Homo sapiens: one gene and its partners. The protein of the gene in region 1 interacts with the protein of each later gene in a biochemical or structural test. Each region holds a gene or a part of one and is shown in the gene's direction. Other genes may lie near its edges.

Region 1 (3,500 bases):
TTGGACCTACAGCAAATGAATGTGAATATATGAAGATTTCTCTTTTCCTAGACTGTTTAGACTGATAGCAGTTAATAAATGAGTGCCTATTTGAGCAAGATACTGTTGGAATTGAAGATTCTATAAAAATCCTAGGCTACATATATAAAATATTGCCTGTGATTCTTAATTTTTTGGTGATTTTCAATTTTCTGGCACATTAAGTATCTTTAGGCCACTTGACACATTCCATTGTATTCCTAGATTCTTTGGGTCTTCAATTAAAAATCTCCCTACCCTGTTCTTTCCCCTTTGATCCATAGATGCAGGCATGGAATGTGTTGTTGAGTCAAATGTTAGGGGTTCTTGCTATAGTTAGTTCGGATTGTGAATAGAAAGCAATGCTAAGTACTGGGATTTACTACATGCTTAGTTGTACTCTCTGGAAGAGGTAGACTTCCTGGAATTATGCGGCAGTCTCCTGGGAATAGCTTCTAAGTTTAAAATGTATCATATTCTTCAGAATTTTCTTGATGGTCAGTTTACCCAGCTTAAAGTGTGTGGTTAATTTTAGTGAAAGTGCTTTCACTCTGATTAGGAAATAAGACACAGAATGGTGTGTATGTAGAACACAATCATTTTCATTTGAGTATTTAGGAAAATTCACATTTCAGGAACCATGGTAGTTGCTCTTGAACAATTGTTTCTGACCATAATTGGAATTTGTACCTTGCTTTTAAAAGATTCCATTTATATCGAATCCTCAGCTTCTTTGCAAAATTGTTTTTTCCATACATATGTTTATATGTTATTCAAATTATATTTAACAAGGTGTTTTCCCTGTCATTGTTACCGTTGTGGCTTTTTCTCTTTGAGTTATTGTCCAGTAGAACTTTCTTCAATGATGGAACTGTCTACCAGCTACATAGGGATATTGAGCACTTGAAATGTGGCTGATGTGACTGAAAAACTAAATTTTTGCTTTAATTTCTTTTTAATTTAAATGTAAATAGCCACATGTGACAATTGACTCCTACATTGGACTGCACAATTATAGGCCATGCTGATGTGTTTTGTAAGTTTGAAGATTTATCTCACCACTCATGTTTATGTATTTAGAATATTTCGTTAGCTAAAATTAAAACACTCATTGTTCAAAAGTTTTAACTGAATACTGTCTGTCTTGGAAAGTGGTGGTGATGAACAATGACTAGCAGCAGACTTCTTGAGACCTTATTATGTGCTGTAAATTTGGCTAGGTACTTTCAGATCTTCACTCAATCCCCCCAGACACCTTTCTAAAAAGTGAGACTCATAAAGTAGTGGGAATGCTGTCCGAATGGGATGTGTACCTGAGTCTTCTGACACAAAATATTTCAAAGAAATTGGATAATTGACCTTAAAAAAAGAAGTTATACAGTATCCTAGAGTGCTTTTTGTCTGTTGGACTTAGGCCCAGAGAGGTGAGTTCTCTCTACTTGTTTATAGATTAACAATGTGGTATAGTAGACAGAACAGGGAGGGCTTTAGGGGTTGTTGAAACAAATGCTGTCCAATAGAAAAATAATATGAGCCACATACTTTTTTTTTTTTTTTTTTTTTTTTTGAGACAGAGTCTCACTCTGTCCTCTGTCACCTAGACTAGTGTGCAGTGGTGCGATCTCGGCTCACAGCAACCTCCACCTGCCAGGTTCAAGTGATTCTCCTGCCTCAGCCTCCCAAGTAGCTGGGATTTTAGGTGTCTGCCACCATGCCTGGCTAATTTTTCCATTTTTAGTAGAGATGGGGTTTTACCATGTTGGCCAGGCTGGTCTTCAACTCCTGACTTCAAATGATCTGCCCACCTCGACCTCCCAAAGTGCTGGGATTATAGGCATGAGCTGCTGCTCCTGGCCTCATATAAATAATTTTTTAAGTTTTCTAGCAGCCATATTAAAAGTGAAAAAACATAAAATTAATTAATTTTGGGTTTTTTTGGTAGAGACAGAGTCTTGCTATATTGCTCAGGCTGGTCTCAAATTATTGGGCTCAAGTGATCTGCTCGCCTTGGCCTCCCAAAGTGCTGGGATTACAGGCGTGAGTCACCATGCCATGCCCAGATAAAATTAAATTTAATATATTTTATTTAACTTGGGATATGCAAAATATTATTTCAATATGTAATCAGTATAAAATTTACTAATGAGATACCTTACATTCTTTTTCATACTAAATTTTCTAAATCTAGTGTGTGTGGTTTTTTTTTCTTTTTTTTTGAGACAAAGTCTCACTCTGTCGCCAGGCTGGAGTGCAATGGTGGATCTCGGCTCATTGCAACCTCCGCCTTCCAGGTTCAAGTGATTCTTCTGCCTCTGCCTCCCGAGTCGCTGGGACTACAGGCGCGTGCTACCACGCCCAGCTATTTTTTTTTTATTTTTATTTTTTGGTATTTTTAGTAAAGATGGGGTTTCACCATGTTGGTCAGGATGGTCTCAATCTCTTGACCTCGTGAAATGCCTGCCTCGGCCTCCCGAAGTGTTAGGATTACAGGTGTGAGCCACCGTGCCCGGCTATGTATATTTTGTACTTAGAGCATATATCAATTCAGACCCTATTTTCTTTGGAAATCCTGGTCCGTATTTAGAGTTCATAAAATTTACAGTTAGAAAGGCAGATTTGGGGCTGGGGGTAGTGGCTCATGCCTGTAAACTCAGCACTTTGTGAGCCAAGGTAGGAGCATTGTTTGAGCCCAGGAATTCAAGACCAGCCTGGGTAACAGAGTTAAGACCTCGTCTCTATATTAAACAAACAAAAATGAAGAAAAAGGAAAGCAGATATGCAATACTTCAGTGATCCCAAACATACTTAAGTTTTCCAGTAATTGAATCACTTACTGGTTATTATTTAATTTTAATTACTTTAAAATTACGGTAACCACATTTCAAGTGCTCATTATGGTATGTAGGTTGTGACTTGTGGTTACCATATTGGACAACACAGGTTAAGTCTAACCTCTTGCTTTTTTTTCTCTGGGAAATGGGCATACTTATCTCACAAAGTTATTATGAGGATCTGAGATCATGTATGTGAAAGTACTTTACGTAGCATTTTAGGAGCATTAATTATTGGCTAAATAATTTTTGTCCAGTACATTTTATTCAGGTATCTCAACCAATGACACAATATTCATTTACAGATCCAGTGTTTTATGGTGTATAAGTATTTGGGGTTAACACATTTACCTAAGATTTGAGTACTTACTGCAGATGAGGAACTGTGTTAGACTCTAGGGACAAGGTGGTAAACAAGATGGACTACACCTTGCATTCATGCTTCCATTGATGAGTTGGCAAAGGCTGTACACTTGTTATTCCAACCATTGATGTTGTCTACTTGATTGTGGATCTTTTATGTGTTCGAACATTTGATATTGTGCACAGTTTAATACAAATATTGATATGATACAAAGTTGATTACACTCTGAAACTGCCCCCCAAAAAGAAACTTTTAAATAAATCTTTTATTATGTTCCACGAGTCTCA
Region 2 (3,500 bases), 4.7 Mb from region 1:
CGTAAGTGATTATTACCTAAAAAAACTAAAGTAATAATTAAAAACAACTTATTCTTGTCCAGTTCAAAGTTCTTGGAACAATGTACTTGCAAGTGTAGGAGTCTCAGTAATAAAAGAAAAGCTTAATGTAGAACGTTTATATGAACATGTGTTATGCTTTCTTCAGTTTCTGGAACATTCAAATTCAGTGTTTCTACAGCCAGTTAGTCTACAAACCATTGCAGCAGCACCATCAAACCAGAGTCTGCCACCTTTGCCCAGCAATCATCCAGGTACATGGGACCTTATTATTCGCATCAAATAAGGAAACTTATGAGAATATATGAGTCTGCCAGAGATTCATTGGTAACTGAAAATAGGAGAAATTAGAGATGCTCTTTTGTATTTTTAAGCTAATGAAACAAATTCAGGGCAGATACCATTATGACTGACTTATAAGAGACTGTAAAAATGCTTGTGTTAAACTGAGTATTGTGTTTTGAATGCTAAGGTAAATGAATCTTTAGTTGAGGTTTGGAAACCTTTTTGATACATACAGATTTGTTGAACTTGGGAGTAGCATTGGGACACCAGTCTGTTTTGGTTGTGTTTATTAGGATCTAATATTTGAAGTCTAAATTATAAAAAGAATATCAATTGCGTGTACTCCTCAAAAAGCACAATATGTTTACTGGTCTCTTTTTTTGCCCAAAGCGATGACAAAAAGTGATCTCCAGCCACCTAATTACTACGAGGTAATGGAGTTTGATCCCTTAGCTCCTGCTGTCACTACAGAGTAAGTCATTTACAAAATGATTAATTTATTTTTTGTCTTGGTTCCCTTTGATAGCAGAGCTAACAGGGCTTGGTTATACATTTAACTTTGTTTAGGTCTTGGCAGAAATTGATGGCCTTATTAAAAATGCCTTATGAGGTTTTATGGCAGCTGTTACTCTTAATGGTCTTATCGTTCCGGCCTTGTGACTAAAAAATAAAAATGCTGGGGTTGCATGTTAAGAAATAACTGGAACTAACCTGCTTAATGGACTCCTCATAGATCCCTTGGCAGAAAGTCATGTTCTCTTTAGCTTGAGAAGGGTACTAGTCACTGATTGGTGACATAAGTTTATGCCACATTGATGGAATATTTTAGCTGCTCTTTATGAACTGATCCAAAAAAATCTTATATTAGAACTTGTTTTTAGTCTTCTAAAGCATTAGTACAATTACTTTTTACTTAAAATCCTTAAAGCAACATTCTTTTATGATTTCATATTGGTCAAGATATATAAATATTAATGGAATGGTAAGGTCATAAGAACTTTAATATACTTTGAGTGACTGAAGGTTACCCCCAAATTGTTAAAAATTATTAAAGCACGTTTATTGGAAATCATTGTTCAGAAACTGACAGCCTACAGGCTCTATCTTGCTTGCAGTTGTTTGTTTTTGACCTGTGCAGAATTTAAAATGTGCATTTAAAAAATTAATTGCTGGTTTGGGAAACTCTCAACCATGTTTTTCCTCAGCTCTCACTCTAATATAACAATGAATGCAGAGACTTCTGTGGCCCCCAAATATGTGAGGATTTCTCCCCATCAGCAGGCAAGCAATGAATTCTACAATGGACACCAGCTGGGTGTCCTCTGATTCAATTCCAACACCATCTACCTGGAGATAGTGTCAGACCCCACAGGTTGAGAGCTCAGTCCCCACCACCCCGACACCTACCTTCCCAGACACCAGTCACAAGCCTGGGCCTCTAAACTTAGGACTGACTGGCTTCAAGTTGGGGTTCCCATGACTGCTTCTTTGGGTTTGATTAGTTTGCTGGAGCAGCTCACAGAACTCAGGGAAATACTTATATTTACTGGTTTATTATAAAGGACATTGCAAAGGATGCAGATGAAGAGATGCACAGGGCGAGGCATGCGGAAAAGGCCATGGAGTTTCCGTGCCCTCCCTGGAGTCCCACCCTCCAGGTACCTCCACGTGTTCAGCTATCCAGAAACTGACCTGACCCAACCCCAACCCAGTCCTCTAGGGTTTTTAATGGAAGCTTCTTGATGTCAGCATTCCTTCCCCCAGGGTATAGGGCAGGACCCTCTCTAGGGAGGCTCTTATGACCCACAGTGACAAAGGTGGGCGATTAGAGTGGTGCCTTGGGGCAGGTGAAAGGAGGACTAGAGAAGGTCGAGAGATTCTGCTTCCAGAGGCTGGCTCCTAAGGCCTGACACACCCAACATTATAACAAAAGACTGTAACAAGGGCTATGGGAGTTGTGAGCCAGGAACCTTAGACAAAAACCAGTATGTATCATAAGACCACAGTTGCCAACAGCTGAAAACTCGGATATTTGAAAATAAAAATTCTGGACTTCTAGATCATTTAGATACTCTGTCAACACGAAGCCTGAATTTTTACGTGCTAGCTATGGGCTGGGGTTGAGTAGTAGCTATCTCCTTTACACAGGTAGGCTCTGCAGCCCCTCAGGTCCTGTTACCACCCAAAAAACCCAGGGTTCATTCACCTGGATAGTAACAGATATCTGACTCTCCACAAGGACACAGGTTTTGATCAATAGGAATTTTATTACTTAGCACAAGTAAATTCTTTAGGGGCCAGGATCAGAAAGCGTTCTTCTGTAACTTCTTCATGTTGACCAGGGACACTGTATCCAGAGATGTTAGAGGAGTGAAAATCTCTAGGCACTAAAACTAAATATGTTTTAGGGTCTCCCAGGATAGGTTGCAAAGGCACCTACAGTTGAAATTTTTCTAATCTGGAAGATACAAATTTTACGAAGAGGTTAAAGATGCAGGGACCAAACAACAGTAGTAAGAGCAATAAAATTAGTGGCCTCATTAGGGGAAGAAACCAAGTAACACTTGGTATTGCTAATTTGAGAACTTCTCAAACAGAATTAGAAGTATGGCTATTAGGCCTGATGTGGTGGCTCACCCCTGTAATCCCAGCACTTTGCGAGGCCAAGGCGCGCAGATCACCCTGAATTCAAGATCAGCCTGGGCAACATGGTGAAACCCCGTCTCTACTAAAAATACAAAAATTAGGCAGGTGTGGTGGTGCGCACCTGTAGTCCCAGCTACTCAGGAAGGTGAGGCAGAAAAATCGCTAGAACCCAGGAGGTAGAGGTTGCAGTGAGCCCAGATCGTGCCCCACTGCATTCCAACCTGGGCAACAGAGCGAGACTGTCTCAAAAAAAAAAAAAAAAAAAAAATATGGCTGCTGATTAAAAGTGTGGAACCAAGAGGCTTGGGCATGGACCTTCCTAATGTTAACTTCCTATTTCCCCTGAGGTATTTATTCAGGTACAGCAAGAGGAATTAATAACTGCACACTCTCCTCCTCCCTGTTCTGCTAAGAGGCAGTCTAATGCTATACAATTATCTAGTACCGCATTAGCCAAGGAGTCATATGAGGCCCCAAGTCTGGAACTTCCCCAGGAACTAGGGCCAGCATGGCAGTGCCATGGGCTCAGAACACCTCTATTCTGTCCTGAT
Region 3 (3,500 bases), about 16 Mb from region 1:
AAGGCTGTATGTATTTAGCTTAATCTGATGAATCAGGTTGAACTCGTACCTTAGCAGTCTAAGCCTGAACGCCATAAAGCCTTTAAGTCCATTCCTGGTGTTCAAGTGAGAAGGTTCTGGGTCAGGCGTGGCACTGGTTGGTAAATATGTGTCAATATTTCTTATCTTACTATTGTGTTAGTGTTGTTTTTACGATGGTGTCTTTCTTTACCCAAATGATAGGATTTAAAAATATTGTTTAAAGCCCGTTTCCAAGCAGGCCTGGGTTTGTTTATAGCAGCACAGGTGAACTAGAGGGTAGGCCATGGCTGAAACAGGAATGCTTTTCTTCCGAGCAGACCCGCCAGCCAGAATGTGTGGTTTGGTGATCAGGGGTTTGTGTAATAATAAGCTTTGCCTGTGGCCACTGAGACGGTAGTAAACAGTATGGGTCACATGGCATGACAAGTAGGTTAAGGGCCAGATTTAGACACTGATGGCCTGCGTAAGGAGGAGCAAACCACACACTGCTTGCTTTGGGTTTCTCTAGCTCCCAAGGCCAGAAGTGATGGGAGAGGGGTGAGGGGTGTCAGAGAGAAGAACCTTGAAAGGCTTAGAGTGGTATTTGAGGAACCATAAATTTTAGTGTACTATAATTAAATGAACCCAATTTTCATAACTTCAAGGGCTTCTTGAAAAAGGGGTTCATGGTACCAGTCTTGCTTGGTAGGGAGGTGAATAGAAAAATACTGGGAAACACTTAAAAAAGATGTATGCTGGACAAAGACTCAGGTGTACTGAAAGAGCGTAAACCTTCATTATGTTGACGTGAAAGCCAAGTAGGGAATGTTGCTTAGCTATAAGGCAGAGCCTATTGCAAAATCAGAATCAGGAGCTGCTGATTTTTTTTTTTTTTTTTGAGACAGAACTTGCTCTGTAGCCCATGTTGGAGTGCAGTGGTGTGATTACGGCTTACGGCAGCCTTGATCTTCTGGGCTCAGGTGATCCTTCCACCTTACCCCCTGAGTAGCTGGGACCACAGGCACATGCCACCACACCTGGCTAATTTTTGTATTTTTTACAGAGACGGTTCTTGCCCTGTTGCCCAGGCTGGTCTCAAACTCCTGTGCTCAAGGGATCTGCCTGCCTCGGCCTCCCAAAGTGCTGGAATTACAGGTGGCCAGAAGTTGCCGATTTTTAAAATTAAGGAAAAAAATACATAGTATAACATTTTCCATTGTAACCAGTTCTGTGGCATTAAGTACATTTGCATTGTTGTGCAACCCTCATCACTATCCATCTCCAGAACTTTCTTAGTTTCCCAAACTGAAACTCTGTCACCATTAAACATTTAACTCCCCATTTCCCCCCTGCTCCCACCCCCGGCAACCATCTTTCTACTTTCTGTCTCTGTGATTTTGACTATTCTAGAAACCTCATATAAGAGGAATCATACAACATTTGTCCTTTTGCGATTGGCTTTTTTTTTTTTTTTTTTTTTTTGAGACAGAGTTTTGCTCTATTGCCCAAGGCTGGAGTGCAGTGGTGTGGTCTCAACTTACTGCAATCTCCGCCTCCCGAGTTCAAGCAATTCTCCTGCCTCAGCCTCCGGAGTAGCTGGGAATATAGGTGCACACTACCGTGCCCGGCTAATTTTTGTATTTTTAGTAGAGCCGGGGTTTCGCCATGTTGGCCATGCTGATGTCGAACTCCTGACCCCAGATGATCCGCCTGCTTCGGCCTCCCAAAGTGCTGGGATTACAGGCATGAGCCACCGTGTCCAGCCTGAAGTTGCTGATCTTTTAAAGACATATTGGATACATTCACATGGTTTGAAAATCAAAAGGCACAAAAGTATATGTATTCAAGGGCAGAAAAAAGTATAAAAAAGAATTTTTTTAAAAAGTATATATAGTAAAAATTCTTCCTGCTCCCAACCATTCCCTAGCCACTCAGTTCCAATTTATTAATTTTTCCTTTTGTGGATTATGCTTTTGGTACTGAATCTAAGAAATGTAATCCACAGTAGGCCGGGCGCAGTGGCTCACGCCTGTAATCCCAGCATTTTGGGAGGCCGAGGTGGGCGGATCACGAAGTCAGGAGATCGAGACCATCCTGGCTAACATGGTGAAACCCCGTCTCTACTAAAAATTAGCTGGGCGTGGTGGCGGGCGCCTGCAGTCCCAGCTACTCGGGAGGCTGAGGCAGGAGAATGGCGCGAACCCGGGAGGCGGAGCTTACAGTGAGTCGAGATCGTGCCACTGCACTCCAGCATGGACGACAGAGCAAGACTCCGTCTCAAAAAAAAAAAAAGAAAAGAAATGTAACCCAAAGTCACAAAGATTTTTTCCTATCTCCTATATAAATTTTACAGTTTTTTTTGTTTTGTTTTGTTTTGTTTTTTTTTTTTTTGAGGCAGAGTCTTCTTGCTCTGTTGCCCAGGCTGGAGTGCAGTGGCACGATCTCGGCTCACTGCAACCTCTGCCTCCTGGGTTCAAGTGATTCTCCTGCCTCAGTCTCCCAAGTAGCTGGGACTACAGGCGCCCACCAGCACTCTCAGCTAATTTTTTTGTATTTTTAGTAGAGACAGGGTTTCATCATGTTGGCCAGGATGGTCTCGATCTCTTGACCTCGTGATCTGCCGGTCTCGATCTCTTTACCTCGTGATCTGTCAGCCTCGACCTCCCAAAGTGCTGGGATTACAGGCGTGAGCCACTGCGCCTGGCCTGAATGTCTTTTATAAGCAGAGTTGAGCATCTTTGCATATGGAGAAGCTATTGGATTTTTGGTTTCACATTCTCTCAGGGTTAGAATTGTCTTCCTACCCTCCACCTCATGTATTAATTATCTCCATAATTTCTCAGCTTCTGCTTGGTTCCCTCTAGTGATGGGAGCTCATTGCTTCACAGGGCAGCCTATTCCATTTTTAAAAATATACAGTTCTAAGGCTGGGCATGGTGGCTGACACCTGTAATCCCAGCACTTTGGGAGGCCAAGATGGGAAAATCGCTTGAGGCCAGGAGTTCGAGACCAGCCTGGTCAACATAAGTGAGACCCCATCTCTATTAAAAAAAATTAAAAATATACAGTTCTAGGCTTGACTCAGTGGCTCATATCTGTAATTCCGGCACTTTGGGAGGCTGAGGTGGGAGGATTTGCTTGAGCCCCAGAGTTCTAGACCAGTCTGGGCAACATAGCAAGACCTTGTGTCTACAAAAAAAAAAAAAGCTGGTCATGGTGGCATGTGTCTGTGGTCCCAGCTACTCGGGTGGCTGAAGTGGAAAGATTGTTTGAGCCCAGGAGTTTGAGACTGCAGTTGCAGTTAGCCATGATCATGCCACTGCACTCCAGCCTGGGCAACAGAATGAGGACATGTCTCCAAAAATAAAAAAAGTAAAAAAAAAAAAAAAAAAAAAAAAAAAAAATATATATATATATATATATATATATATATATATATATATATACACACACACACACATATATATGTGTGTATATATATGTATATATATACGTGTATA
Region 4 (3,500 bases), on another chromosome or scaffold:
TGCTGCTTTTGACATTTCTTTACATTTCTAACCTTTTTATTAATCCTTAAACACTGTCAAGGTTTTTCAGTGTTTTTTAAATTTAACACAAATTCATTGGAATTTTATTAAAATATATATTATACTACAAATTCTTTTAATTAGTGCTTGCTTTTTTTCTGTGGTAGACATCTGATGCAACCCTGTTTATGCAATGCCCAAAATTTTGCACTGTTGACACTGTTGATAGAATTGATGTTTTAATGGTACTTGTAATCAATAAACTATTTTTTATATAAAGAGATGAGGCCAAAGACTACAATTCCCTTGTCAACCTTGATAGTGTTTTAGTATAGATGTTCTTTCATTAGATACTGGAAATACAAGGGATTTTAGGTAGTTAGTGAATGTACATGTGAACTAAAATGCTCTCTGTGTATTTTCTGTTGTGTAAGTACTTGTTCTAATCCAGTGTTATTGCATTATGTAATTGTTCTCCCTGGGAAAAACAGAATGGCATGCATTTTCCACAATACGTAAGTGACCAAAAACGAGCCTTTTTGCAATAAATTGGCATGCTATTAACCACTGCTGTAGCAGAATCTCATAACCTTTCAGCTATTACTTGTTTTCACATTCAGATTTTCAATGTGCCAGAAATTCTTCCTAGCATCTACTGATTTCATGGGTGTGTTGCAGAATTGATTCTGATGGTGGCATGGGAAATACCGATTTTTTTTCTTGCTTAATATTCCGCCATTTGCTGCCAGATGGCTGGGTGTCTGTGTGTGTATCTGTGCTGCCACTATGCACTTGATGACTTCTGAATGAAGGGAAATGTTGATTGTGGTAATGTTTAAAATAACAACTGCATGAAATCTTACAGGCTTCTGCTCTTCTTGGCAGTTTGTCTACTGCTCTTGCAGATCTTGGTTTTAAGTAGGGAGAGACCAATAAGTCCTACACGCTCACCCGAATACTAAACTTATAACTATTCACTTTAGTGTTATTTTTTTAAAGTTATATTTCATTTAATTTCTCCATGCATATGTTCAAATTGCCATATAATTTCAGTTATTTTATGTTTTAGCAGTGTTATTGGTCTTTCACCTTTATTCAATTTCAGTTTTCATTATGAGAAACACACACAGGAAATGTTGTTAAGACAGCAACTATATCTAAAATGATTCTGTTCTCAAATTGTATGTTTACAGATAATCAAAGTAGTAGGAAGAGGGGAACTTAAACATCATAGTGATAGATGGTTCTTTTAAACATGAAAGCATAAACTGACCTAATTGATTGTTCCTCTTAAATAATTTTTGGAATAAATTAGAAAGCTAACGTACATACTCTATATAAGAACTATGGCTCATAGAAATAGTCATACTCAATAGTAGTTTGAAACCTTTGGAGTTTTTTGAAAAGAGTGAGTAAGATCCTTAGAAACTAACTTTTTGGAAGATCAGGTTATTGATTGATTTGAGATCTTTACATTTTTTTCTTTGAATGCTAAAGCAATCAGGTACCTAAGTAAGAAAACATTCAATAATACTTTTTCTGGGTAGACATTTTTTAATGATAGTGATAGGCTTTAAATTTTAGAACTATTTAGAACTATTTAAGATACTTTTTTAAATCTAAAGATTTTTAAAGCTGTAAAAAGCATGATGAAATCTTAGATCACTGCTGTATCTAAGTTTAAGTGGTATAGTTATCCTTCTAATAAGTCTGCTTTTCTGCTAATTTCAAAACACTTTTTTTCACTGACCATTAATCGACAGTTCTTAATGATCACAAGTGTCACTTACTCACAGCTGTCTTAGCAATTCTTTTTAGTGGAACTACAGCTACTAATTCCTTGAACTCAGTTGACACACATGAGTTATACTTTCTTGTTCATTTTTCCTTTCACTATGTTAGGCACCCCCTGTAATGGCCTATCCTGCTACTACACCAACAGGCATGATAGGATATGGAATTGTAAGTATTTTCCTAGGTACAGCTTTTGGAAAAAATATTGATTCATATATAACATGTTTTTATTACAATTTAACCTAAAAAAGAATTTAGTGCTCCTCATACTCCTAGCCCTAGTGCCTAATGCAGTAGAACCATAGCATTGGTTTCATAAGTATGTCTAGAATAATCATTATACAAGAGATCTTATGCATTAATGTTCATAGTATTACTTGGTTTATTTTTCTCCTCGTAACTTTGCTGGGCCTTTTATATTTCAAACATTAATGTTAATTCTAAGCCTTTGTTGCTGTGACCATATATTAAATACCAGTGAGGTCTTATAACCTGATATTGTAGGGCATGGGAGGGATTAACACTTGAATTGTATAGAGATAAATTTAGTCTGATAAAGGCTAGAGAAATTTTCCTGTGACAATGATTATTACAGTACAAAAACAGTCTTTTAACCTTTCAAAATGCCACAATGTGCATTTTAGATTGCCCTTAGTTTCCCAACTCTCAGTATATAGAGACTCAATTAGAAAAGAAATGGTGCTAGTAGCTTCAACCCACTGGTATGTATTTGAGGAACTGTTCCTGGTAGAAGGCAGTACCGTGTCCCTTGGTATTGCTACTGTGCCTGCTATGTTACTTCTTTATGTATATGATATGGAAGTAACTCCTTTTATACATGTGGAGAAGTTTCACAGCTTTTTTTCATAGTCATTGCATTAAAATGTCTGCTGAGGCTGGGTGTGGTGGCTTACGCCTGTAATCCCAGCACTTTGGGAGGCCAAGGTGGGTGGATCACCTGAGGTTGGGAGTTCAAGACCAGCCTGACCAATATGGTGAAACTCCGTCTCTACTAAAAATACAAAAATTAGCTGGGTATGGTGGCGCACACCTGTAATTCCAGCTACTTGGGAGGCTGAGGCAGGAGAATGGCTTGAACCCAGGAGGCAGAGGTCACAGTGAGTTGAGATCATGCCACTGCACTCCAGTCTGGGCAACGGAGCAAGACTCCATCTCAAAAAAAAAAAAAAAAAAAAAAGTCTGCTGAGAAACTCAGGCCATAAACTTAAAATGAAGCTCTAAATGCAAATAGTAGTCTGCTTGAAACAATAAATAGAACTTCTTGAAAGGAAAGATTTTAGAGCATTGCATTTTAACCAAAACAGTATTCTGTTTGTGCATTATTTTTACACTAGGTATTGTCACTTACTAGGTTAATTTTATACCCTGTAGTGGTAATTTTTAAAGAAACATATTTGGTTGAGATTGTATTTTCAGTTACTCAAGAAAGAGTTAACCTCTGGTTTGTAGTTTAAGCTCTTTCTTGATTCTTATATGAAATAAAATGGAAGAACTAGAGCAGGCTTATTCAGAGAATCAACTGTCTTCACTTGTGATCACTTGCATAATGGCAAAAGTACTTGATTTGTTATACAAATTTACTTTGAAATTTCTTAGCAGCGAAGACAGAGTCTTAAGTTTTCTTGATGTCTAAACCTGATAAATTTGGAAACTCTTAGTCTTAATCATTTTATCTGTTGTAATAC
Region 5 (3,500 bases), on another chromosome or scaffold:
ACAGATAATGGGTCAGTCTTTTCTTTGCTCTCACTACCTTTTTCAGAGAAGTTTTTTGTTTGTTTTTTTGAGACAGAGTCTCGCTCTGTTGCACAGGCTGGAGTGCAGTGGCGCACAATTTCGGCTCACTGCAAGCTCCACCTCCTGGGTTCGAGCAATTCTCCTGCCTCAGCCTGCCGAGTAGCTGGGACTACAGGCGCGTGCCACCATGCCCAGCTAATTTTTCTATTTTGGGTAGAGATGGAGTTTCACCATGTTGGCCAGGCTGGTCGTGAACTCCTGACCTCAAGTGATCTGCCTGCCTTGGCCTCCCAAAGTACTAGGATTACAGGCGTGAGCCACCACGCCTGGCCTTTCAGAGAACTTTTCAAAGGAGCTTTTTCTGCGTCCAGTGAAGGATCCCTGCTCTCAACTGAGACTGCCCCTTGCCTTTCTGGGCTGTTCTAAGCTTAGTGTGAAACTCAGATATGCGTGGCTGAGCCCTGGCCCGCAAGTCGCCAGCCTCTCCACGGCTTTGTTCTTCCTCAGCCTGCTCGGACTTTCAGAGAATGGCGCGTCTGTGCTTCTCCGTCCCACCGTCTACCAGCCTGTGTGGTCCCCAGCTTTTGCCAGCCGTCCATTTCAATTCCCTCACCCAAGCGGCTGGTTGAAAGGGCAGGGCTGGCCCTAGCAGCAGTAGGAAGCGGCCAGCTCTCTTCAGTGTGGAGATTTAGCCAAGTGCTGGAGGATTCTGAGATGGGATTTCAGCGCCCCAGCGTGACCTTCTGCTTCCCCTCCGAACTGAATGGTGACCTAGGCTTGCACAGTTTTCACTAACAAGTCAGCAGCTTGAAAGTTGACCTCTCAAACTCTAGGGGAAAAGTGTGTGAGGAAGTGCTGATTTGGGTCAGTTTGAGCCTGCTGGTTGCATTCCCAGTTGAGAAAGTCCATACGATTTGCCGGCCACCCCGGGAAACTAAGACGATAGAAAACCACCTGTCAGTTCCCCGCTGCTGGAGAGGAAGCCAGAGATGGAGCGAAGGAGTACAGAGAGCCCTTTGTTGTGTCCGGAGCAGTGATGACTGTGTCTTGACGCCTCTCTTCTGGCTCTTGCTCTCATGTAGGTTCATGTGTGCCCAGCTGCCCAACCCCGTCCTGGACAGCATCAGCATCATCGACACCCCCGGGATCCTGTCTGGAGAGAAGCAGCGGATCAGCAGAGGTAAACAGCTGTGACCACAGCTCGGGCTGCTGGTGTTGTCACACATCCTTCTCTCTAAGATCTGCAACTTGGTTCAGATGCTGCCCTTGAGATTTCTCCTTTTTTTTTTTTTTTTTTTTGACGGAGTCTTACTCTGTCACCCAGGCTGGAGTGCAGTGGCGCGATCTCAGCTCACTGCAACCTCTGCCTCCTGGGTTCAAGCGATTCTCCTGCCTCAGCCTCCTGAGTAGCTGGGACTACGGGCATGTGCCACCACGCCCGGCTAATTTTTGTATTTTTCGTAGAGATGGGGTTTCACTATATTGGCCAGGCTGGTCTCGAACTCCTGACCTCATGATCTGCCCGCCTTGGCCTCCCAAAGTGCTGGGATTACAGGCGTGAGCCGCCACACCTGGCTGCCCTCGAGATTTCTTCCAGTCTCAGCCTTTCTAAAAAAAAAAATGTGGCCGGGCACGGTGGCTCACACTTGTAATCCCAGCACTTTGGGAGGCCGAGGTGGGCGGATCACGAGGTCAGGAGATTGAGACCATCCTGGCTAACACAGTGAAACCCCATCTCTACTAAAAAATAGAAAAAATTAGCTGGGCGTGTTGGTGGGCGCCTGTAGTCCCAGCTACTCGGGAGGCTGAGGCAGGAGAATAGCGTGAACCCAGGAGGTAGAGCTTGCAGTGAGCCGAGATCGCGCCACTGCACTGCAGGCTGGGCGACAGCGAGACTCCGTCTCAGAAAAAAAAAAAAAAGTGTCCGAGTAAGAACCCATTTTACATCAGCCTCCCATCTCCACAGTGCTCTGTGCACTGAGAGGGCGGGAGCTGCTTTCTTTCTTGGCTCCCTGGGCCTAGGCAATGGGAGCAGCCATGGTGAGACCACAGCCAATCTTATGTGGCTGTCATGCTTTTGAACCCCTGGGGCATGCTGGAAACAACAGGATCAGAATCGGGCCATGCTGTGAGGGTGCAGGAAGCATTGCTGACTCTGAACAAGCCCCTGGTCCCCAGAGCTTATTAGCTTTAGTCTGTGTTTAACAGCCTTTGCCCCCCAAAGCCATATACATTCCTCACACGTCCAGCAGGACTGAGAGAGAGCCAAGCAAAAGGAGAAGCTGGTAGAAATTCATGAAACGGGCTGGTGGAAATTTGCTTACATTTGCTTAGAGGTTGACAGCAGCCTCCCTGGCTGAGGCCTTCTTGCTATGCAGTAGTGCACCGTGCCCATTCCAATTGTGTAAACTCCTGCCTAGATTCTGCCAAGCTCTTTTGAAGATCTGGTTCAGGATGAGCCTGAACTGGGTCCTCCATCTGTCACTGCCCCTTTTTCACAGACGGGTGGGGCGCTTTGGGGCCTGATGCTTTCTGGGAGGAGCTTGAGGGTAGGCTGGTACCTGGCAGGTGAGGAGTGGAGTCTACAGCTCCAAATGTGAAAATGAAATAAGATCAAACTCAAAGAGGGGTTGAGGACAAGTGAGCAAGTTTGTTGATGATTAACTTGCAGATCCTTCCCGTGTCCCTTACCCTCTGGACTGGCCTTTGCTGGGTGAGCCTTGCAGTCAAAGCCGGCAGCTAGGATTTGGGGTGCACATGTCTCTCTGCTAGGGCTGTGAGGGCATGGGGACTCTGTTCTTGGAGCTGAGAAACCTTGCTTCTCTTTCCTTCCAGCCTTGCGGGCCTTGCCCGTGTGGGACTGCATCAGAGCGTACTGAAATCACTGGCCCTCATCTGGTTTCAGAGCTGCCAGTTAAGCTGTTAGATTCTCCCACCCCTGGTGACAGTGATGCACCTAGGAGTTAAGGGAGTAGATTTGGAGACCCCTTTAAAAAAAAAAAAAAGCGAGGGCTAGTATTTTTATTTCTTACTGCTATTGTTGTTCCAACCTAGTTTTAGTAAATGCCGGATAAGCAAAAGCCCTGTCATTTGCCAAAGCAAGGTCAGAAAATCTGATTAAGTTACTCTTTTATTTTTTTGAGACAGAGTGTCGCTCTATCGCCCAGGCTGGAGTGCAGTGGCATGATCTCGGTTCACTACAACCTCCTCCTCCCTGGTTCAAGCGATCCTCCCACCTTAGCCTCCTGAGTAGCTGGGATTACAGGTGCATGCCACCACGCCTGGCTAATTTTTATATTTTTAGTAGATATGGGGTTTCGCCATGTTGGCCAGGCTGGTCTTGAACTCCTGACCTCAGGTGATCTGCCCGCTTCGGCCTCTCAAAGCATCATCACAGCCTTGAACTCCTGGGCTCAAGTGATCCTTCCACCTTAGTCTCCCGAGTAGCTGGGCCCACAGGCGCGGGCCATCATGCTCGG
Region 6 (3,500 bases), on another chromosome or scaffold:
AAATCCCATAGGCAGCAATTCTTATACTCTAGGTGGCTAATCAAAACAAAGTTCTAGAAAATTCAAGAGGTAAAACTCTAGCACTGAATTCTATATTTGCTCAGTGACAAGAATTCTTTCCATATTTGGCGAGATCCAAGGGGCAGTGCTTCCAGATTCCAGATCAGCTGCTGATTTAAATTTCCTCATCCCAAGTATCAACTTCCTTGCACTCGTCTTGGGCGTCAATAATGAACACGCAGGTCAGAGTTTTCCATAAGGCCTTAACAAGTCTTTCAGCAGGGTGTTCATGGAATTAAACTCTGGGAAGAACGGTAATCTGCTGTTGTACACAGATAAGTACAGAGACATTTTGAAAAGAAATGCTAAGGCCAAGCAAAATGATTTATTTTTAAAGTGCCACATCAGAATCCAATCATAACATTAACCTCAGGGCTGTTACTTTAAACACGTTTGGTAAAAACAATGCTTGTCGAATTTTTGAAAATATAATAACTTTATGCAAAGATCCCGCACTCTTGCATTTAACACATTCCACTTTTTAAATCCTTCTGCCTTGATGATTTAAAATCTCCCTTGCTGGTTTTTTTGTTTTTTAAATTTACCAAGTATTGATACAGAATCAGCACTGAAGACAGGACCCTTCTGCTACCTCCACATTCACATTCCCCCCAAGGCCATTCATTCAGATCGTCAGCCAGCAGTGAGTTTCTCATCTCCATGCTCTTTGGGTTTCATCGGGTTTTATTGGGTCTTTTTTTTTTTTTTTTTAATTTTGACAGTGTGCACATGATGCTCACCTTTGAGGAAGAAGAAACTGTTGAAACAACACTTTAGAATCTGTCAACACAATTAGTTTGTGTCTCAATTTGAGGTAGATGTCCCAAGACATTGCTCCAAGTTAAAAAGAAAAAAAAAGTATGTGGTTTTGCATTGCGTAGTCCTCTTTGGATCCATACGATATGTGTGCCTTCCCTGACCTTCCAGAGAGCATCAAAAACATGAAGGTTGAATCCAGAGAGCACAGCCCACTTTTATCTTTGGCCCAGGGAGGCACTTGGTACTCTGTATTTCTTCGTGGCATCCTTAAAATAGCCTCTGTGGAAAAGGGATTGGCCTTATCTTCCGTGCAACGGATGGGAGGCATAGATATAGCTGCTGGCAAGGGGAAGTGGAAAGAGGCCCATCTGGGAGAGGGTGGCCCGGAGCTTTAGTTTGATGCTGCAGGACTTCCCCAGGTGAACGCACCTCTCCTGGCCCTAGCTCCCTTATAGGAAAATGGAGGTGGTCAGCTCCGCCTTCTCCACAGTGACCATCTGCTGACTGTGCTGCTGCCAGGACGCAGGGGGAGCTAACAGCAGTGCCCCTATCGGATCTTCAAACCGGGGAGGGGTCTCGTGCAGTGGGCAGGGGAAATGGGCTCCCACCTGGCTTTTGGGGTTCACTCCCTGGCTGTTCTACTTCCTGGCCATTTCACCTTTGGCAAGCCACAGCCTCACAGGAGATAGGCTTTTCCATCGGTGAAATGGGTAGAGTGATAGTTCCTACTTCACAGGGTTATAGTGAGATTCACCAAGTCGCAAGAGCCCAGAACTGTATATGGCACACATAAGCTCCTCAATCAAAGTTAGTTAATTTTACTATTCATTCAAGCCAAATACATTTTTCTTCTAAGACTAAAATCAGGGAATCTATGAAAAGCATTTCCCCCTACCTTTTTTTTTTCAATTTCTACAACAGTTTGTGAATTGAATTTTGTTTTCAATTAGCCAATTTGTCCATTTTCCTGTGATGAACATGTTTTTATCTCTTCATTATAAAGTAAGAACTCTGACAGACACAGTGAGCTCCCAATTATTCACGAGCACCTGATCTGCATTGGAGATTGCTTAAAACAGGGCTGGGAAATGCTTGCTGGTGAGTTCACCGGACACTGCACAGCAGGTCCTGGAAGGAGACATTCAGGGCGTTGTTAACTTCTGTGTCTCCCTATTCTTCTTATTCTCCTTCCATACTCTTTCTCTCTCATTGCAATCGCTATCCACCTGGAAGGCGGCTTGAAAAACACAAAAGACAACAAGGATGATGAGGGGGACCCCTCCTGAGCCTCTTAAATGCTGAGGGATCCTTCCTGGACCTGTTTTTATTCATTCCAAGCTGCCTCTCCTAGACAATCACTTCTCTTACCCCAGGAAATCTGGGACGGTGCAGGTTTGCAAGCTTGATCTGGAATAAAGAAACAAAGGAAAAGACGGACCAGGAGGCTTGGCCTACGCCAGGCAAAAGTCAGCAAAAGCAGCCACTACACATCTCCTTTTGAGTTCTAACTTTTCACTTTGTCTTGTGTGAACTCCTAAACTGGAAGCATATTTATAGTCACGTAAAAATAAGAATATTGTCCAAGGCCAAATGTAAGTGACTTTTATGAGTTATTGGACTTTGTGAATTACTCATTCTACCAACCTGAATTAACATAGATAGTTTTGTTGACTTTACCTTCTTTGTAAGCCAAACAGTATGAACTCGGTTAAGCCGGTCTTAGGAGAAAAGACATAAAATGTGTGTTGCTAGGATAGCATTCTAGTGAAGGAAGCCACTTCTTTGTTTCTTGTGCATCCCTGTGAGGGTACCTCTGTCCATCCCAAGAGCTGTTTTCATGGACTCACTGTTGAAAGCCCAAGCCTATTGTAACCAATTTTGATAAGCTGGTTACAAAATAAGCACATGTATACATTTTTTAAAGCCTTGTTCTTCTGGAGATGGAAAACATCTTTTTTTAGATCACATGTTTACTGCTTTGGTAAACAGTAAAATGCTGCTACAGCAATTACCTTGAGGATAAAGGGTTTGTAGACAGATACTTCCTGCGTTCACTTCCTACACAGATAGCCAGCCCAACCAGAGACGCACTGATGCAGGAAGGGCTCCCAGTGGAAACTTCCTCTCTCCGAATGCGTGGTCCATTATTCGTTATCTCCTCTCCAAGGGGAATAAGCTTGTTGCTCCAGATTTTCTAGGAGAATTCTGTCTTGAAACAGGTAAAAATATAAAGTTTCTAAAGTAATGATTACAGTACCTCGTTCTCATCCTCGGTGTCATCTACTCGGTGATTTTTAAGGGGACGTGATTAGACTAGAATAGACTTGTCTATGAGTAACATGCCCCGTAGGCACCTCTGTCTCCTTTGAATCATGGAAAATGATGCATAATTCGAATGTTTTTATATTTGGTAGAAAAATAAGTCTCTTTGAGATTCAATGGAAGGCCTTTTCTATGGTTAGTTGAAAGGTCATTTTAGATTTTGCTTTCTTTAGTCAAGCAGAGATTACCAGATTTGGGTACAAAAAATATCAGCTCACAGATTGTTCTCTGTGCTGATTTTACAGCAGTTACTAAATTCCAACGAATGCATTGTTTAGGCCCTTTGAACCGAAGCAAATAAAACCACAGTGCACACACACTAAACAATAGGGCATCATCAATTAGCCATCTACAGGATG
Region 7 (3,500 bases), on another chromosome or scaffold:
GAGTGAGGGGAGATACAGGTTAAATGGAGCGGAGCAGTTGCCCCTGACTTCCTGTCTGCTGGAGCTGACCCAGCTGTCCGCCTCGCTGCTTTGCGTGTGGCCATATCCCGGCCTCCTCAGCTACAGAAACCCTGTGTTTGCTCTGTCAATGGCCTTTGAGGGGACAGACGCATTTGAATGAGATCTCTCTGTCCTTCAACCAACTCTTTGGAAATGTTAAAGCAAAATAACCTACCGCTCTGCCAGCGTCCGTCCGTGTGCCCCAGCTCTTTGAAGAACGTTCTTGTCCCTGCCAAGTGCTGCTGTTAGGTGCCACGATAATACAGCACAGGGAGGCTTACGTCTGATTCATTTCAGCGTTGATTTTAAAAATAGAAATTGTTTTATAATTACTTTTACTCTGCAGCTCTAGTGGATAAATTATTAGCTGGAGAAGGAGAGACTCAGTGCCCTGAAGTCGTCCAGTACTTGTCTTTGAAAGAGCTCTTGTCCTTCGAGTGTTCACCCTTCCATTTGCCCAGTGGGGATTTGCTGACAGCCAGATGTTGGTTTGGGCCTAGAGATACAGCAGGAAGGAAGATGTCCCTGTATTCGGGGGTTGGAGGTGGGGACAGAGTATGATCGGTGGACAGACAACTCCGGAGCCTCCTGGGCCACAGGGTGCCGCGGGGTTGGCGTGTGGGGCAGCCGCTGCCTGGAGCCTCCCAGCTCAGTTGCCTGGCTTTGCTGACAGTGCCCATTCCTGCGGTCTGTTTCCATCTGGACTCCACATCAGGCCTGGGCCAGCAGCCTCTCGGGAGCGTCCCCTGCCTCACCCTGATCTCCCCTCTTCTGAGGCAGCACTCACTGAGATGCTCGCTGGGGTGTGCCCCATGAGTCTCAGTCCAGGGACCAGTGCAGCTCTGGGCTGCTCACGAGTCAGCGGGCTCTGTCTGGCCTGATTGTTCCTGGAAGCAGGGCAGGTGTATCCTGAGGGCTTGGGCTCCCCCTGGCCACTGGACTGAGCTGAAGGCCGCAGCCCAGAGGCAGATGCCCTCGCCCCAAGGGATGGGGGTAGTGGGAAGGGCCCTTGGCTCTGCCAGCCCCAAGGCCTTCGTTAACTTGAGATTTGAACAAATCCTGATCCGGAGCCCACTCGCAATTTGGAGGCATGTTAGCAGGCCCTTGGGGAGTGGGGCTCCTGTGGTGGGACGATAAGGATGTCTATGCTGACACACTTCTCCCACACCCAGGCCTAGCCCGCACCCTGAACTGTGAAGGCCATGCAGCCCAGGGCCGCCTGGGAGGGGCCTGAGGGGCTCCATCTCCATCTCTGGTCCATGTCTGGCCCACATCTTTTTGTTATTTATGACCTTGGACAGGTGGTTAACCTGCAGCCTCAATGTCCTCCCTTGCCCACCTGCTCCGAGGTTCCTTGTGAACATTAATGAGGCAACACTGGAACAATGCTGTCTGCTCGGGGGCCCAGTACAAGGCTGAGCTCAATAAAATTGAATTTATTAATAGGTTATTGAGACCTGTCTGCTGGCCTTATGGCATAGAGTATGTTCTTACACACTTGGCGATGCCAGCTATCCTGAGTGTATCTGCAGAGCCTCACCTGCCCCCTGGGCCCCTGGGTGCCCCTGAGCTTTGTCCCCACTCTCTGTCCTTAAAGGTCAGGCCCCTCCTGCTGCCAGCACTGGGCAGGATAAGAGCAGGCTCAGAGAGTTGTGAGCAGGTGGCCCCTGGGGCGTGGGTGTGGACTCCGAGGATTTTTCGAGACCCGAAAAGCTGCAGGGTCTGTGGAACCAGGCAGGAGCTGACCTCACTCTGCTTCTGCCCCTCTCTGCTGTCTCTGCGGACCCTCCAACTCCCTTCTGCAAGGTGTCTCACGGCGCTGTGGAACTCTCTATTATTGTTTTGTTTTGTTTGAGATGGAGTTTAGCTCTGTTGCCCAGGCTGGAGTGCAGTGGCATGATCTTGGTCACTGCAGCCTCCCAGGTTCAAGCGATTCTCTGCCTCAGCTTCCTGAGTAACTGGGATTACAGGCACACACCACCATGCCCGGCTAATTTTTGTATTTTTAGTGGGAGTTTCGCCATGTTGGCCAGGCTGGTCTCAAACTCCTGACCTCAAGTGATCCACCTGCCTCGGTCTCCCAAAGTGCTGGGATTACAGGCATGAGCCACCACACCTGGCCTATTATTTTTACTTTTTAGAGGCAGGTTCTCACTCTGTTACCCAGGCTGCAGTGCAGTGGTGCTATCATGGCTCACTGCAGCCTGGAACTCCTGGACCCAAGCCATTCTCAGCCTTCTAAGTAGCAGGGGACTACAGCCGTGCACCACTACACCCGGCTAAGTTTTAAATTATTTTTGGTAGAGATGGGGTCTTGCTAGGCTGGCCTTGAACTCCTGGGCTCAAGTGATCTCCCACCTCAGCCTCCCAAAGTGCTGGGATTATAGGCGTGCGCCACTGTGCCTGGTCCCCCTCCATTATCACTTCTGTCCTGCTTCCTCCAGAGACCTCCCCTGACCCAGCCAGACACCCCTCCCTGTTGTGCCCAGCAGTGGGAAGAACAGCATCCTCCTCCTCATGCTCTCATGCTGCACATTATCACTGCATCCCCTGCAGAGCCCTGGTCCCACAGCCACTCACAGCTGTGTGGAAACTGCCCTGCCAGGCTGTGTGTGAGGCCCCTGCCTCTTGGGAGCTGGATGGGAGCTGTGGGTGCTGAGTAGCGGACAGACCCCGGGGCGGTCACATGTGTCCTTATGATCTTCCTTTCTCTAGCACTGGGTTTTTCCACCCTGAGCTGAGGTCCATAATCAATCCCTTCCACTCCTCAAAGGCTGCGCTGCCCTGAAGGGGTGTCTCTGGCAGCTGACCAGCCAGCCTCTGGCCTGTGTCAGAGCTGCTGGGGTTGTTCTGCCCGAGGGGCCACATGGGGCACAAATGCAGGCTAGAGAACCCAGGGACAGGCCTGGGCAGCCCTCTACCTCCCATGGCACGCTGCAGTTTCCCCACCTTCAAAATGGGGAGAACTACGTTCACCCCACTCGGCAGCTGTGAGGACAGCATGTTGAGAACCTCAGGACCCAGAACCAAGTATTGCTGGCAGTTGGACCTGCCTCGGGACTGTAAGCCTCAGAGCGGAGCTGCGTCAAGGACACCGTGTGGGTCTCACCACAGAGTGAGCCCGAGTGCCTGCTGCTGCGGCCCTCAGAACCCTGGAGCCACTTCCGCAAGGGAGGGTCAGCAGCAGACGGGAGTAGGTGGGACATCACTGGGACCTGGCGGGCTTCTCCCGGGACAGGGCTTAGCTGCTACTGCCTGGTCAGAGGCGAGGCCCACGGAGCAGCCACAGACTCCCACTGTGCGAGCACTGTGCCTCCTTGTGTGGCGCTCTGAGCCTGGTGCACACATCTGCCCATCCTAGACACAACGGGGCTGTGTTCCCAGAGCCAGCCGGCACCCTGCCCGGGAGGGCCCTGCTGCCACGGATCCTGTCCCCTGCC

The links.
Region 2: the proteins of CLTC (region 1) and TOM1L1 form a complex in vitro, tested with the Homo sapiens proteins (2 studies listed by BioGRID and IntAct).
Region 3: the proteins of CLTC (region 1) and TMEM94 interact in a surface display test, tested with the Homo sapiens proteins (one large-scale study listed by IntAct).
Region 4: the proteins of CLTC (region 1) and PICALM form a complex in vitro, tested with the Homo sapiens proteins (one study listed by BioGRID).
Region 5: the proteins of CLTC (region 1) and EHD1 form a complex in vitro, tested with the Homo sapiens proteins (one study listed by BioGRID).
Region 6: the proteins of CLTC (region 1) and ERG form a complex in vitro, tested with the Homo sapiens proteins (one large-scale study listed by BioGRID).
Region 7: the proteins of CLTC (region 1) and HIP1R form a complex in vitro, tested with the Homo sapiens proteins (one study listed by BioGRID).

Annotation. Positions count from the first base shown.
Region 1 is NC_000017.11:59,622,895-59,626,394, forward strand, and holds part of CLTC (clathrin heavy chain 1), read left to right. Parts: intron 1-3,500. UniProt on the Homo sapiens protein: Clathrin is the major protein of the polyhedral coat of coated pits and vesicles. Two different adapter protein complexes link the clathrin lattice either to the plasma membrane or to the trans-Golgi network.
Region 2 is NC_000017.11:54,949,352-54,952,851, forward strand, and holds part of TOM1L1 (TOM1-like protein 1), read left to right. Parts: intron 1-166; coding exon 167-272; intron 273-693; coding exon 694-775; intron 776-2,550; exon of another isoform or gene 2,551-3,500. UniProt on the Homo sapiens protein: Probable adapter protein involved in signaling pathways. Interacts with the SH2 and SH3 domains of various signaling proteins when it is phosphorylated. May promote FYN activation, possibly by disrupting intramolecular SH3-dependent interactions.
Region 3 is NC_000017.11:75,459,635-75,463,134, forward strand, and holds part of TMEM94 (transmembrane protein 94), read left to right. Parts: intron 1-3,500. UniProt on the Homo sapiens protein: Could function in the uptake of Mg(2+) from the cytosol into the endoplasmic reticulum and regulate intracellular Mg(2+) homeostasis.
Region 4 is NC_000011.10:85,975,085-85,978,584, reverse strand, and holds part of PICALM (phosphatidylinositol-binding clathrin assembly protein), read left to right. Parts: intron 1-491; coding exon of another isoform or gene 492-515; intron 516-1,902; coding exon 1,903-1,962; intron 1,963-3,500. UniProt on the Homo sapiens protein: Cytoplasmic adapter protein that plays a critical role in clathrin-mediated endocytosis which is important in processes such as internalization of cell receptors, synaptic transmission or removal of apoptotic cells.
Region 5 is NC_000011.10:64,872,122-64,875,621, reverse strand, and holds part of EHD1 (EH domain-containing protein 1), read left to right. Parts: intron 1-1,103; coding exon 1,104-1,201; intron 1,202-3,500. UniProt on the Homo sapiens protein: ATP- and membrane-binding protein that controls membrane reorganization/tubulation upon ATP hydrolysis. In vitro causes vesiculation of endocytic membranes. Acts in early endocytic membrane fusion and membrane trafficking of recycling endosomes.
Region 6 is NC_000021.9:38,488,478-38,491,977, reverse strand, and holds part of ERG (transcriptional regulator ERG), read left to right. Parts: intron 1-3,500. UniProt on the Homo sapiens protein: Transcriptional regulator. May participate in transcriptional regulation through the recruitment of SETDB1 histone methyltransferase and subsequent modification of local chromatin structure.
Region 7 is NC_000012.12:122,841,957-122,845,456, forward strand, and holds part of HIP1R (huntingtin-interacting protein 1-related protein), read left to right. Parts: intron 1-3,500. UniProt on the Homo sapiens protein: Component of clathrin-coated pits and vesicles, that may link the endocytic machinery to the actin cytoskeleton. Binds 3-phosphoinositides (via ENTH domain).